Linked DNA regions of Homo sapiens. The protein of the gene in region 1 purifies or fractionates together with the protein of each later gene. This does not show direct contact. Each region holds a gene or a part of one and is shown in the gene's direction. Other genes may lie near its edges.

Region 1 (6,833 bases):
ACACACACACACATAGACACACAGAGAGATCTGTATGATGGCTCTGAAAGTGGCTGAACACAGATGAGGATGAGGATGAATATTTGAAGCTTGGGTTTTGGTTTCTAAACTATTCCCCATCTCTTTTTTTTTTTTTTTTTTTTTTTTTGAGACAGTCTTGCTTGCTCTGTTGCCCAGGCTGGAGTGCAGTGGTGTGATCTCAGCTCACTGCAATCTCCACCTCCCAGGTTCAAGTGAGTCTCCTGCCTCAGCCTCCTGAGTAGCTGGGATTACAGGCACGTGCCACCACGCCCAGCTAATTTTTGTATTTTTAGTACAGACAGGGTTCCATGTTGGTCAGGCTGGTCTCGAACTCCTGACCTTGTGATCTGCCCACCTTGGCCTTTCAAAGTGCTGGGATTATAGGCGTGAGCCACCGCGCCCGGCCTTTTCTTTTCTTTTTTTTTTGAGACAGAGTCTTGCTCCGTCGCCCAGGCTGGAGTGCAGTGGCACGATCTCGGCTCACTGCAACCTCCACTTCCTGGGTTCAAGCGATTCTCCTGGCTCAGCCTCCCGAGTAGCTGGGATAACAGGCGCCCACCACTAGGCCTGGCTAATTTTTGTATTTCCAGTAGAGATGGGGTTTCACCATGTTGGCCAGGCTGGTCTCAAACTCCTGACCTCAGGTGATCCATCTACCTTGGCCTCCCAAAGTGCTGGGATTACAGGCATGAACCACCTCGCCTGGTCTTTTTTTTTTTCTAAAGCAATGTAAGCTACTGAATTTGAGGTCAGTCCAGTATGACTACATACACTCCTTTTTTTTTTTTTTTTTTTTTTTTTTTTTGAGACAGAGTTTCACTCTTGTCGCCCAGGTTGGAGTGCAATGGCAGGATCTTGGCTCACTGCAACCTTTGCTTCCCGGGTTCAAGCGATTCTCCTGCCTCAGCCTCCGGAGTAGCTGGGATTACAGGCGTGCGCCACCATGCCCAGCTAATTTTTGCATTATTAGTGGAGATGGGGTTTTACCCTGTTGGCCAGGCTGGTCTCGAACTCCTGACCTCAGGTGATCTGACCACCTCGGCCTCCCAAAGTGCTGGGATTACAGGGGTTAGCCACCGCGCCCAGCCATTTTTTTTTTTTTCTAAAGCAATGTAAGCTACTGAATTTGAGGTCAGTCCAGTATGACTACATATGCTCAATTTTTTATGAGTATGAACATTTATTTCTCTGGATTCCTTCAGCAAACCTCATTCCCTTTCCTGTCTTGCCTAGGGAAAGCCATTTCTTTCAAAATGAAGTGAGGAATCCACGTCAGCTTGCATTTTCTTTCCTGTTTTCTCAGACAGAAGCAAGCAGAGAGCCACTAAAGGTCCCAGTGAGGAGGCCTGCAGAGAGCTATTTACCATTACAGTGCCGATCAATGGGAAGGCAGCTGCGGTGCCCAAAGGGGGTCAGGCTGGGTTGGATCTGCGCTCGGTACTCTGGTGGTCGTGGGAGGAAAATCACAGCAGGTTGGGCCTCGGTTCCTAGAAAACATCCCTGGCCATATTCATCTGTGGGATATTCTTACCACCCGGGATGCACAGGGGAAACATTACAGGGTGTTTTCTGCACCTCTGCTTTATTGAGTGCTGGGTCAAGTGTTATGCTGTCCTTTCTTTTTTTTTCTTTTTTCTGACGGAGTCTCGCTCTGTCACCCATGCTGGAGTGCAGTGGCGTGATCTCGGCTTACTGCAAGCTCCGCCTCCCGGGTTCACGCCATTCTCCTGCCTCAGCCTCCCAAGTAGCTGGGACTACAGGCGCCCGCCACCACGCCGGGCTAATTTTTTGTATTTTTAGTAGAGACGGGGTTTCACCATGTTAGCCAGGATGGTCTCCTGACCTCGTGATCCGCCCGCCTCGGCCTCCCAAAGTGCTGGGATTACAGGCGTGAGCTACCGCGACGGCCTGTCCTTTCCATGCATTATCTTATTTCATCTTTCCAGCAATCCTGTAAGGTAGTCACTCTAAATATCCTATTTTGAGATGAGGAAACTGAGTCACAGGGGGGTTCAGTAATGTGCTCAAGATTGCACAGCTGGTGAGTGGTGACACTGGGACTGGAACCCAAGTGTGCCTTACTCCAGAGCCCTTGGCATGCACCTGAAACCCCATGTAAGCCCACTGTGGAGACGCGCACCTCGAAATAATGGAATCCACTACATCAGTTCCTTTAGCTTTCTGTGTAATCAGAGTAGCTAGCAGGCTCGGGATTTCGCCCCCCGGCTTTTTTTTTTTTTTTTTTTTGAGACAGAGTTTTGCTCTTGTTGCCCAGGCTGGAGTGCAATGGCGCAATCTCGGCTCACCGCAACCTTCGCCTCTCAGGTTCAAGCAATTCTCCTGCCTCAGCCTCCCGAGTAGCTGGGATTACAGGCACCGGCCACCACGCCCAGCTAATTTTTTTATATTTTTAGTAGAGATGGGGTTTCACCATGTTGGCCAGGCTGGTCTTGAACTTTTCCCCTCTTATTATAATTCAGACACTTAACCTGAAATATACCTTTTCAAATGAAGTAAATGGGCTTACCACTTTCCTTGACCTACTATTGAAAAATACATTCTCCATCCAATATTCAGCCTGAAAACAGGTATGTACATATATACTTTTCATTGCTTTTTTTTTTTTTTTTTTGAGACAAGGTCTCCCTCTGTTGCGCAGGCTGGAGTGCAGTGTCATGATCTCGGCTCACTGCAGCCTTCCCCTAATGGGTTCAAGCAATCCTCCCACCTCAGCCTCTCAAGCCTGGGATTACAGGCGAGCCACCGTGCCCAGCTAATTTTTTTTTATTTTTAGTAGAGACTGGGTTTCACTACATTGGCCAGGCTGGTCTCCAGCTCCTGACCTCAAAGTGATCTGCCCGCCTCAGCCTCCCAAAGTACTGGGATTACAGGCATGAGCCAACGCGCCTAGCCTTTCATTGCTTTTTAAAGACCTAATAGGCTAGACTTTGCTCTCCCTCAATACTCGTTGGTAGGGATAGGCAATTTTCTCAACTCCGGAGAGCATTCATTTGCCTCTCTCCGGTGCTAACACATTCAGTGGTAGGAAACTGGATCTTGAACAAGGGCCATTCATTCTTTGGTGCCACTGGCTATACCACAGAGAAATTTAGGGGTCTGAAACAATACATTGGTCACCTGGGCACCTATCCTAAGCACCTTAGAGGGAAAACGGAGACTTGCCCGCACACCTCTAAAGGATTTTGCACTTGGAGATGTTCTTATGGCCATCTATCTTTTCACCCTGGTGGAGGCCGTGAATAGGCATTTTCCCCATTTAAAGAAAAAATGGGGACGGGGGAGGGCCGTGACACAGTCACACAGGTAAGGGGCAGCCAGATGGCAGGGAGGGGGAATTCCACCCACACTCTCGGGGACTCATGGAGACGGGTGTTCGAATCCAGATCCTGCTCAAGGCCTTCCTACCTCGGGTGAGCCCAGCTGAGGTACCAGCCACTGGGGAGCCCGGCCAGATCCTGCAGATGCAGGGTGCCACGGCGGGCGGAATTACCGGCGCCAGACTTGGGGTGGGATATGGGGAGAAGTGGTGAGCCCGGAAAGCGGAGCACGGTAGAAGTGGGCTGGGTGGGGGCTCACCTCAACTCCCCCATTCGGAGCGTCCGCGGAAAAACGAAAACGTTCCCCCGCCCCGGGCAGGAAGGGGTTGGGAGGGGGGGCTGGCGCCCCGCCCCAGCGTCGCCTGCTCGATGGGGTCCCGCTCTCCTGCGCGCGCTCCCCGCCCCCTCTCTCCGGGGCGGCGGCGGCGGCGCAGGGGAAGGGGCGGGCAGGGGCCGCCGCCGGTTTCTCCTCCCACCGCCTCGCGCCAGCCCAGCCGAGCCGAGCCGAGCCGAGCGGGCGCCGCGCCGGGCTCCCGCCGCAGCCGCGCTTCCCGGCACCCAGCGAGCGAGTGGGCAGGCGGGCGGGCGAGGCAGCCGCGGGGGCCGGGCCCGGCGTCCTCCTCGCCGCCCGCAGCGTCCCCGGGCGGGCGCGGGCCGCGATGGCAGCGGCGGAGCAGGGCTGAGCCCGCTGCCCGCCCGCAGTTCCCGGCCCCGCTGGCCCCAGTCATGGCGAAGCAGTACGATGTGCTGTTCCGGCTGCTGCTGATCGGGGACTCCGGGGTGGGCAAGACCTGCCTGCTGTGCCGCTTCACCGACAACGAGTTCCACTCCTCGCACATCTCCACCATCGGTAAGGGGCGGTGGCCCGGGGCGCCCCTCCCTCCCCGCCCGCGGCCCCTTTCCCCGCCGCCCCCGTCCCCAGCTGGGGAGGAATTGCCAGCCCCTCCGGCTGGAGGCGGTGGCGCCGGAGGCCGGAGTCCGGGATAAATCTCGGGGTGAGCATAGGTTTTGGCAGGTGAGGGTGTCCCTGCTGCCTGCCGTCCGGACCAGGGGTGGGGTCTCCCGCCTCTTGCCGGGAAGCCTTCCGTCCCATCAAACCGAGAAACCGGGGGTGAGGGGAGCTGGTGTAGGCCTGGGTACCCCGAGCTGGGGTAGCAAGAATCGTAGCCGCTGGAATAACATCCCCACACCCCCAGGGGGAGGGGAAGTAAAGCTTCTGCTACGGAAAAGGGGGTCAGGGTGGAGACCGGAGTCACTGAGGCGCCCTTGGTTCTGTGGTGACCCAAGGTGGAGCCGGCGGGGGGCGAGGGGGGGAAGAGAGGACGTACGGAGGGGCCACAGGGATCGAGTTTCCAGGGCAGAGTTGGGAAGGTAAGCCGCAAGGTGGGACACCTGGGGGAGGACACAGATAGGGTGAGGAGCCCCTGCGCCTGGGAAGAGGAGACATCTGTTCTGAGGGAGGCTAAAGAGGATGGAGGAGTGTCAGGAATACCTGCCCAGACCAAGGGGTCAGAAGGCAGGCAGGACCCGCCTGAGGGCATCTCTCATCTGGCAGTGCTGGAGCCTGTGGTTAGAGGGACAAGACCCGGTGGCATCCCAGACAGCACTATGATGGGGTCACTTATTCTAGGAATGGGTCCATGGCCTCCCCTCTGAGACAGTCAGTCTCCCGCTTCTAGGCTGTGAGGGGCCCCCTCCCTGAGAAGTCTGAGTAGAGGGAATTTCATCCTCAGCTGCTACCCGGGTCAGCCCTGGAGTAGCCTCTGCATTGCCCAGGCCCCTGGAAACACCTGCTGGCTGGCTGGTCATCCATTTGGAATGCTCTCCTAGAAGTCCCTGCTGCCATCAGGGATGGGCACCAGCTCTCAGCTTCCTCTTGAGGATTCATGTCCACACCATCCCCCCTCCCCCCAACACACATTCCTTGCTGAGAGAGAAGTAGGAGCAGATAGATACAGCCAGGAGGAACAGAACCTTCTGGTTAAGAAGCCAGCTTTATTGTCCAAGAGACCTGAGACCTCACTGTGGGGCAAAGCAACCTTGAATATTGCCTAAACTTCTGAGCTTTATTTAGTTTCTCATCTGTAGAACGGGTATAATAATTGCACCTACCTGCCAAGTTGTTGTCAAGATTAAATGAGATAACGATTGTTAAGTGCTTAGCACAGCCAGACACATGGTGAAGCTCGATAAATGCTGATTGTTCTTACTGCTATTGCCATTATCATTGAGCTTTTAGGGTCTCCTCTCTTTGTTTCACCAACTTGAAGGGTGAAACAACAGGACTTAGGGTCAGGGAACAGAACTTGTCCGTCTTTCTCAGAGGAGCTGTAAGGCCAACTCTTAGGAAACCCAGGAGCTTGGGCTGAGCCATGGTTTGGATGAGAGACATTGCAGAAAGAAGGGGAGCCTATAGACACTAAGGCTTTGTGCCTGCCGGGAGGACTTGGGGAAGAGGCAGGTGCAGGAGAAAGGCATGGGCGTGATGGAGGAAGTGGCAGAGGAACCAGATGGTGTATGAGGACAGGTTGTGGGCTCAGGGACAAAGGGCGGTGGGTTATCCCTTAAGGAAACTAGGAGTGGCTATTTTTGGGAGAGGCCTGGTGCTTGGAACTACTGAGCTATCTCCAGAGAGCTGTGGGCTGCCTGGGAGGCCCTGGCTTTGGCCTGAAGAGCTGTTGTTTGCACCTGCTCTCCTAGTCCCATTCCAAGTCCTATAGGTGACATGGACTTTTCCCTTTGAGGGCTTCATTCAACCACCTCATTTCAGAAGCTCTGGGACTCCTGCTTAGTGCTGTGGGAGGCAGCCTCCCCTGGGAGACACATACCCTCCTTTTTGAGGGCACCCCTCTTTCTAAAATACCAGGATGGCCCTCTGAGGCTCGTGCTCTCCTTAAAGAGAGTCCATTGCCTCACACCTCTAATCATCCACCCTTCTCCTTGTCCCTTCCCCTTGTAATCTCCCTTCTTAGACACCTTCTGCTAATAGGTGAACACTAAATAGGTCACAGGGACTTCCTGAAACCCTCCAGGGCAGACCACTTTGGGCACATAGGTGAATCAGTGAACTGAGTAGGGGTGTCTCTGCAGCACTGTCTCCCCTCAAGGCCCTTGGTATATTGGCCTAAAACCTAAAGATGGCTCCCAGATTTCTTCCTCCGCTTCTGACACCCGGGTTCCCCTTTCTACAGGACACAGAGGATTCTCTAGGGTCCCCCTTTCCACAGGACACAGAGGACTCTAGGAGTTTGGATTCCATGGAATAGAAAGAAACCTGTCTTTCTTCACACCAGCCTTTTAAAATCTGCCCCACTGGGTATCTTAAATGCTTTCTTATTTAAAGCTTATTAAGGGACTTGGGATTCTCCCTTATCTTGGGCGTGTTTTTCAGCATTAACTAAAACTTAAAGGAAAGAGTTGGATGGTCAAGAAAAGCTTTTTCCTTAAGTGATATGGACAGTTTCTCAAGGAGGT
Region 2 (7,028 bases), on another chromosome or scaffold:
GTTGTGGCTGTTGTGGCAAGTTCTGTGAATAGCTACTATTCCTCTCCAGCCCAGCAAGTGCCCAAAAATCCAGCTTTGGAGGCCTTTTTGGCCCAGTTTAGCCAATTGGAAGATAAATTTCCAGGCCAGAGTTCCTTCCTGTGGCAGAGAGGACGGAAGTTTCTCCAGAAGCACCTCAATGCTTCCAACCCCACTGAGCCAGCCACCATCATATTTACAGCAGCTCGGGAGGGAAGAGAGACCCTGAAGTGCCTGAGCCACCATGTTGCAGATGCCTACACCTCTTCCCAGAAAGTCTCTCCCATTCAGATTGATGGGGCTGGAAGGACCTGGCAGGACAGTGACACGGTCAAGCTGTTGGTTGACCTGGAGCTGAGCTATGGGTTTGAGAATGGCCAGAAGGCTGCTGTGGTACACCACTTCGAATCCTTCCCTGCCGGCTCCACTTTGATCTTCTATAAGTATTGTGATCATGAGAATGCTGCCTTTAAAGATGTGGCCCTGGTCCTGACTGTTCTGCTAGAGGAGGAAACATTAGAAGCAAGTGTAGGCCCAAGGGAAACGGAAGAAAAAGTGAGAGACTTACTCTGGGCCAAGTTTACCAACTCTGACACTCCCACCTCCTTCAACCACATGGACTCAGACAAATTGAGTGGGCTGTGGAGCCGAATTTCACACCTGGTACTGCCAGTCCAGCCAGTGAGTAGCATAGAAGAACAGGGGTGCCTTTTCTAAAGCTAAGCACAGAGTTGGTTACAGAAGGTATATGTTTATGAAAAAGTTTGTTTAAAGACCTTCCATTTATATGGAAGGAGGTTGATAAAATAGCTTGAGGAAATAGCCTGAAAAACAAAGATGAGCTTATTTTAGAAACAAGTTTTTATTTTTTATTCCTTGTAAAATCTTTCTAATCTAAGCCTTGACAAAGCTAAAAATTAACCTGACTTTTTTTCTTTGGACCAAATCAGGTTTGAAATATCGATGATATATATGAGAATTTTTTTTAAATTCTAAAATATAGCAACATTGCACAGGAAGATACTCTTACTTCTTAGAGTAACTACAGAGTGATTTTTTTTTTTTCTTGAGTGAGACTCTGAAGAACCTTTTCGATAATGTTTGGACTTGGACTAAAGCAATTAGAATTATGAAGCAATGATAACCTTTAGAAAATTTTTCTATCACATGTTGAATATTTTCAAACCTTACTTTAATAATCTAAAGTTACGGGATTATATCTTATATTAATTTTGCAGTTTTGAGTAGTATGATAAAAGAAATAAGAATTCAAACCATTAAGTACCTACCTAAATACTACATGTAAGGCACTGTGCTTTTATTTCATTCAGCTGAGGTATAAGCAGCTGTACTCAAATGTTCTTAAAAATGAGAACCAGTGGGGAAATTGTTTATAATCATTGGAAATGAAGAAATTCCAATTGGCTATATCTTTACTTCAGCTTTTCTTGAACAATTTACAGCATTGATTTTCAAACTGTGTCTACTGGCACCCTTCCCCTTTGTATCAGAGCAGTTCTGCTTTTAACTGTTTTATATGTTGGGGTTCTCTATGAGATTTCATTGGAACAAAGAGTTTCACTGATATTCGAGTTTGAAAACCATTGATTAAGTGAAAAAACATCTTAGAAGATAGGAAATATGTTTAAAAAATGAATGTATTAAATCTTATGAGTAGGAAGATGAAATACAGGTTTATTGTATAGATACATTATTTATGAAGGATAAAGATCTATACATGAACAGCAGAATGTATAAGCTAGCATTTACTAGCATGTCTCTGATGCTTTTGTTCATTTCTGTTAATCGTCATTTCTGTCCCCTCTGCATGGAATTTTATACTTGTCTAGGGTAAGAGTTTGTAGACTCTTTCAGCAGAACAGATTTTAATAACCAATTTATTTGTTTTATTTTAAAAATTTATTTTTGAATAACCAATTTAATAGTAAATTTTATATGAACATTTGGCATAACTTTACCAGTTTATTTCTATGCAGTGATGGAACATTATGTAATGCAGCTCATTTCTTGACCAACTAGTTATAGAAGTACCATTAGGTTAAAAATTAGAGAAATCTAAGAGATGTTATACTTAGTGAGAGGAAGCAGAAATGGTGGGTAGATTCTCAGAGGTTTTGATGTTCAGTACTGACGGACCATGTTCTGTGATTGTAAGAAAGATTGAAAACAGTTTGTATGGAGATAGAGTTGATTAGCATTTGAGCTCTGAAAGCAGAACTCTAGTAAAATGATCTCGACCTAACAAAGGGTCTGTTCCATTATATAGACTATTACCATAATCCTGGATTATTTCAACTGGGTTTTGGCCTCTCCATTATATGAGATCATATGTATATAGCTAAGAAGTCTGATTAAAGTATGGAAAGATTTTAGGAAACACTAAGAAGATACAGGGATCTTTACTGATACCTAAAAAGATTACAATTGAGTAATTGCTCAATTGAGTGTAGGGGCATACCTGAAGGAAGAATTTGCATTTGGGACTTCGAAGGAAGCTTCCAAGAGATTTGGGAAGAGACCTGAACAAAAAGTTAAAGCATGGTGAATGTGATATCACTGTCAATCCAGTATAAAAGCAGAGGAAGTTGAAGGAAAATCTGTATCCCATATGCACATTTTTTCTGTCTTTTTAGATCTTAGATGCTAGCGTTACATCCACAAAACCAGTGTTGCCTTGTATAACTATTATATTGGCCTGCTGACCTGTGCTACCTCAGATCTGTCAAGGAACCAGTATGTCGCATATTCTTGTTTCTTCATTCAGTTGAATATGGTTTTTCATCATTTCTCTTCAAAATAATTTAGAAAAATAAATTTCTAAAGTCATAATTTTTAATTTAGCCTTTTTAAAAACATTTTCCCTTCCATGTATAGTGCAATCAATTGAGGGTGTTGTCAGTTTTCTGTCTGCTATTTCAAAAGTCTTTTTTTTTTTTTTTTTTTTTTGAGATGGAGTCTCACTCTGACTCCCAGGCTGCAGTGCTGTGGCTTGATCATAGCTCACTGTAGCTTTAAACTCCTGGGCTCAAGCAATCCTCCCACCTTAGCCTCCTGAGTAGCCGGGACTACAAGTGCAGACTACCACACCACTCTACCACACTATTTTGTATAGAGACAGGGTCTTACTGTGTTGCCTAGGCTGGTCTTGAACTCCTGGCCTCAAGTGATCCTCCCACCTCAGCGTCCCAAAGTGTTTGGATTACAGATGTGACCCAATGCACCCAACCAAACTTCTTTTTTTTTTTTTTTTTTTTTTGAGAGAAGGTCTTGCTCTGTCACCCAGGCTGGAATGCAGTGCAGTGGCACAATCTCATCTCACTGTAACCTACACCTCCTGGGTTCAAGTGATTCTTGTGCCTCAGCCTCCCAAGTAGCTGGGATTACAGGCATGCACCACAATGCCCAGCTAATTATTGTATTTTTAATAGAGACGAGGTTTTGCTATGTTGTCCAGGTTGGTCTCGAACTCCTGGCCTCAATTGATCCGCCTGCCTTGGTCTTTCAAAGTGCTAGGATTATAGGCACGAGCCACTGCACCTGGCCTCAAAAATCATTTTTAAAAGAAGCAGTATATTAGCTCTGGGTCTTCTCATGACTAAAATGACTATTTTTAAACATAAGACCATATTTTATAAATGTACAGATAATTCAAATCTATTATCTAATGTATTAGGTTAATTTCTATTTGTTCTATACTTTTTTTTTTTTTTTTTTTTTTGAGATGGAGTCTTGCTCTGTTGCCCAGGCTGGAGTGCAGTGGTGCAATCTTGGCTCACTGCAAGCTCCGCCTCCTGGGTTCATGCCATTCTCCTGCCTCGGCCTTCCAAGTAGCTGGGACTACAGGTGCCCGCCCCGACACCTGGCTAATTTTTAAAAAAATATTTTTAGTAGAGACAGGGTTTCACCGTGTTAGCCAGGATGGTCTCGATCTCCTGACCTCGTGATCCGCCCGCTTTGGCCTCCCAAAGTGCTGGGATTACAGGCGTGAGCCACCGCACCCGGCCTATTGACATTTTTTAAGGTTTCAGATTTTCTTTTGTGTGTCTAGTAATTCGTCTTTTATTGTCAAAGATAATTTGCTTATTTGACTTAGAAAAATGATTTGTGGGCATACAATATTGTATGTGGTACCTAAACGTTGCCATTTAGTTACTCTTACAGAACAACTTTCATTACACTGTATATTAATATAAATTACTTCTTGAGTAATCCCAGAATTGTAGAACCAATTGGTAGAATCAGAAACTGTCTTTGGACTTGAGGTTTTTCTTCCCTTAGGGTAAATTTTAGGTTTTCTGGTTAGTTTCCAGGAGTTGGCGGACAAGTTCATATCACTAAAGGTGTTCATATCACTAAAATAGTAATGCTAATTTGTTTCATATTTCTATTTTAAAAAGCAATCAATAAAGACATTTCAATACATTTCATTTGGAAGCCCCCAAGTGTATGGTGGTTAATAAGGCTCAGCATGCTGGTAACCCACCATTCTCTTAGCTAGTGACTCCACTAAATAGTGCTAGCCGCTGAGATGGTTTTGACCCTTTAACAGCCTTTTTTTTTTTTTGAGACAGAGTTTCACTCTTGTTATCCAGGCTGGGGTGCAATGGTGCGATATCTCGGCTCACTGCAACCACTGCCTCCCAGGTTCAAGCGATTCTCCTGCCTCAGCCTGCCAAGTAGCTGGATTACAGGCACGTGCCATCACGCCCAGCTAATTTTTGTATTTTTGGTAGAGACGGGGTTTCCCCACGTTGACCAGGCTGGTCTCGAACTCCTCACCTCAAGTGATCCACCCGCCTCGGCCTCCCAAAGTGCTGGGATTACAGGCGTGAGCCACCGCGACTGGCCTACACAGCTTTTAATTGCTTGATTTATACTTTATTAAAGAGAGGAAGCACAATGAGCAGTGATACTAAAATATAACTAATATGGCATGTGAAAGTGATCATTATTCAGATGATCTTCACCAACACTGCATTTGCATATATCTGACCAAACTTTATGCGACATAGGCAGGTCTCTGGCACTTCAAAAATGAATGTTAAATAGAAAATAATAAATAATAGCTGATTAGGGTAATCATTTATTTAATCAGAATAAAGATTATATCCATAAAATTTACTTGCAGAGAAGTACTTTCTTTTTGTTTTAAAGACAGGGTCTCACTCTGTCACCCAAGCTATGGTGCAGTGGCACAATCACAGCTCACTGCAGCCTGGACCTCCTGGCCTCAAGGGGATGATCCTCCTACTTCAGGAATTATGCCACCATGCCCGGCTAGTTGAGAAGTACTTTCAAATAGCAACATGAAGCCTTTCCTTTACCATTTGAAAATAAAACATAGTTGTAAACATAAACCAGTATGTCTTTGTAAAGCCAATAATATATCATTTTATAGGAGCATTGTCTTCTTGTGTTTTTCAAGTTGACTATGTAGTTCAATGTCAGTCTCCATTTTAATATCTTGTTTGTTTATCAGCCTGAGCATATTTCATTTTAAAATGTATTTGTTGAGAAGTCATGGTGGTTTTTTGTTTTTCACAAGTCAAGTAGCTTGAACACTATCACTTGTCCAATGGGAAAGTTGATGCTTATCTTTATGGCAAATGCTTGGTTGAATAATATATTTGCAAAGATGTTAATTCTACAGAGAGCTAAATAAAGTTAAGATACCTGTAAAACAGTTTCTCCAGATGACTTTAAAATAAGCCTTATTTTTGTAAATTTATGTTAAATTTTAGGTGTTAAGTTGTGAAATACCTAATGATGTGGGCCTAAATTTGCCTCATTCAGACTGAGACAGGGCTGTTAAAATTCATTTCTAGCTAATAAACTGTGCTATAACTTCTTTATTATTATTATTATTATTATTATTATAGTTTAAGTTCTGGGATACATGTGGAGAACATGCAGGTTTGTTAACATAGGTATACACGTGCCATGGTGGTTTGCTGCACCCATCAACCCGTCATCTACATTAGGTATTTCTCCTAATGCTATCCCTCCCCCAGCCCCCCACCCCCTGACAGGCCCCAGTGTGTGATGTTCCCTGCCCTGTGTCCAAGTGTTTTCTTTGTTCAATTCCCACCTATGAGTGAGAACATGCGATGTTTGGTAAACTGTGCTATAACTTCTGTATCTCTATAGGCCAATCCAAATGGCCTGAGAACATAATCAGTATCCCCTAATCTGCAAAAAGGTAAATACCTTAGTCTTCAGTACCTTTCCTTCCAGTATTATCTGCATTATCTGTGCCCGCTTGCTGTGATGTCTTGAAAAGCCCATAAATTGGTTCTTATTTTGGCAAATGGTCTCCTGCTTTTCCTCACTGAGGCTTATAAACTAAATTTGCCTTTGGCTAAGCGCAGTTACATGAACCAAAAAGAACATTTTAGACTTGGGAAGCAACAGGCTGAGTCACATTGTATGGGGCAGAGTTGGCCAAGCCCCCGGCAGTCACAGCCCTACTCTCTGTGTTCCTTCTAGGCCTGAGGACGCATCAACACAAAGCTCCAGGCAGTTGCTCCTGGTTCATCAGAGAGCACAGGAAATTTAAATCTATTTGCCTTTCCTGTCATAAAAGAAACAGCACACTGACTTTCAAACTCAATTGCATTTTGCTTATTTGTGCTTAACAAAAAATATGTGTGCTTTGCCAATACTAACGTCCCACTTCTCTGCACTCCCTTTCTGTATAACAGGGATTGCTTTTGTATTTGTTTCTTATAGATGCTGATGATGTGCCTTATTCAGATTAGTTGGCCATTACCAGAATAAAGAATAAATCTGAATTTTTTTCAGCGGACTGATTCTTGATTAAATTTCCCAAAATAGCAGGTTTATAGAAATGGGCATGTGGTGATTAATGGTGGGAAAGGAAACTGCCCTCATATGGCAGTAAGCTGAGGAGCTAGAGAATCCTGTGAGGGTTGTCAGGTGGCATTTTGTGGCCATCAGTGAAATGGTATAGGGCAGACCCTGCCTAGAAT

Evidence for each region. The genes of interacting proteins can lie anywhere in the genome.
Region 2: the proteins of RAB15 (region 1) and TOR1AIP2 purify together in Homo sapiens (affinity purification with mass spectrometry; 2 studies listed by BioGRID and IntAct, with this or other methods). This does not show direct contact.

Annotation. Positions count from the first base shown.
Region 1 is NC_000014.9:64,969,329-64,976,161, reverse strand, and holds the start of RAB15 (ras-related protein Rab-15), read left to right. Parts: upstream 1-3,825; 5' UTR 3,826-4,085; coding exon 4,086-4,209; intron 4,210-6,833. UniProt on the Homo sapiens protein: The small GTPases Rab are key regulators of intracellular membrane trafficking, from the formation of transport vesicles to their fusion with membranes.
Region 2 is NC_000001.11:179,839,778-179,846,805, reverse strand, and holds the end of TOR1AIP2 (torsin-1A-interacting protein 2), read left to right. Parts: coding exon 1-735; 3' UTR 736-6,830; downstream 6,831-7,028. UniProt on the Homo sapiens protein: Required for endoplasmic reticulum integrity. Regulates the distribution of TOR1A between the endoplasmic reticulum and the nuclear envelope as well as induces TOR1A, TOR1B and TOR3A ATPase activity.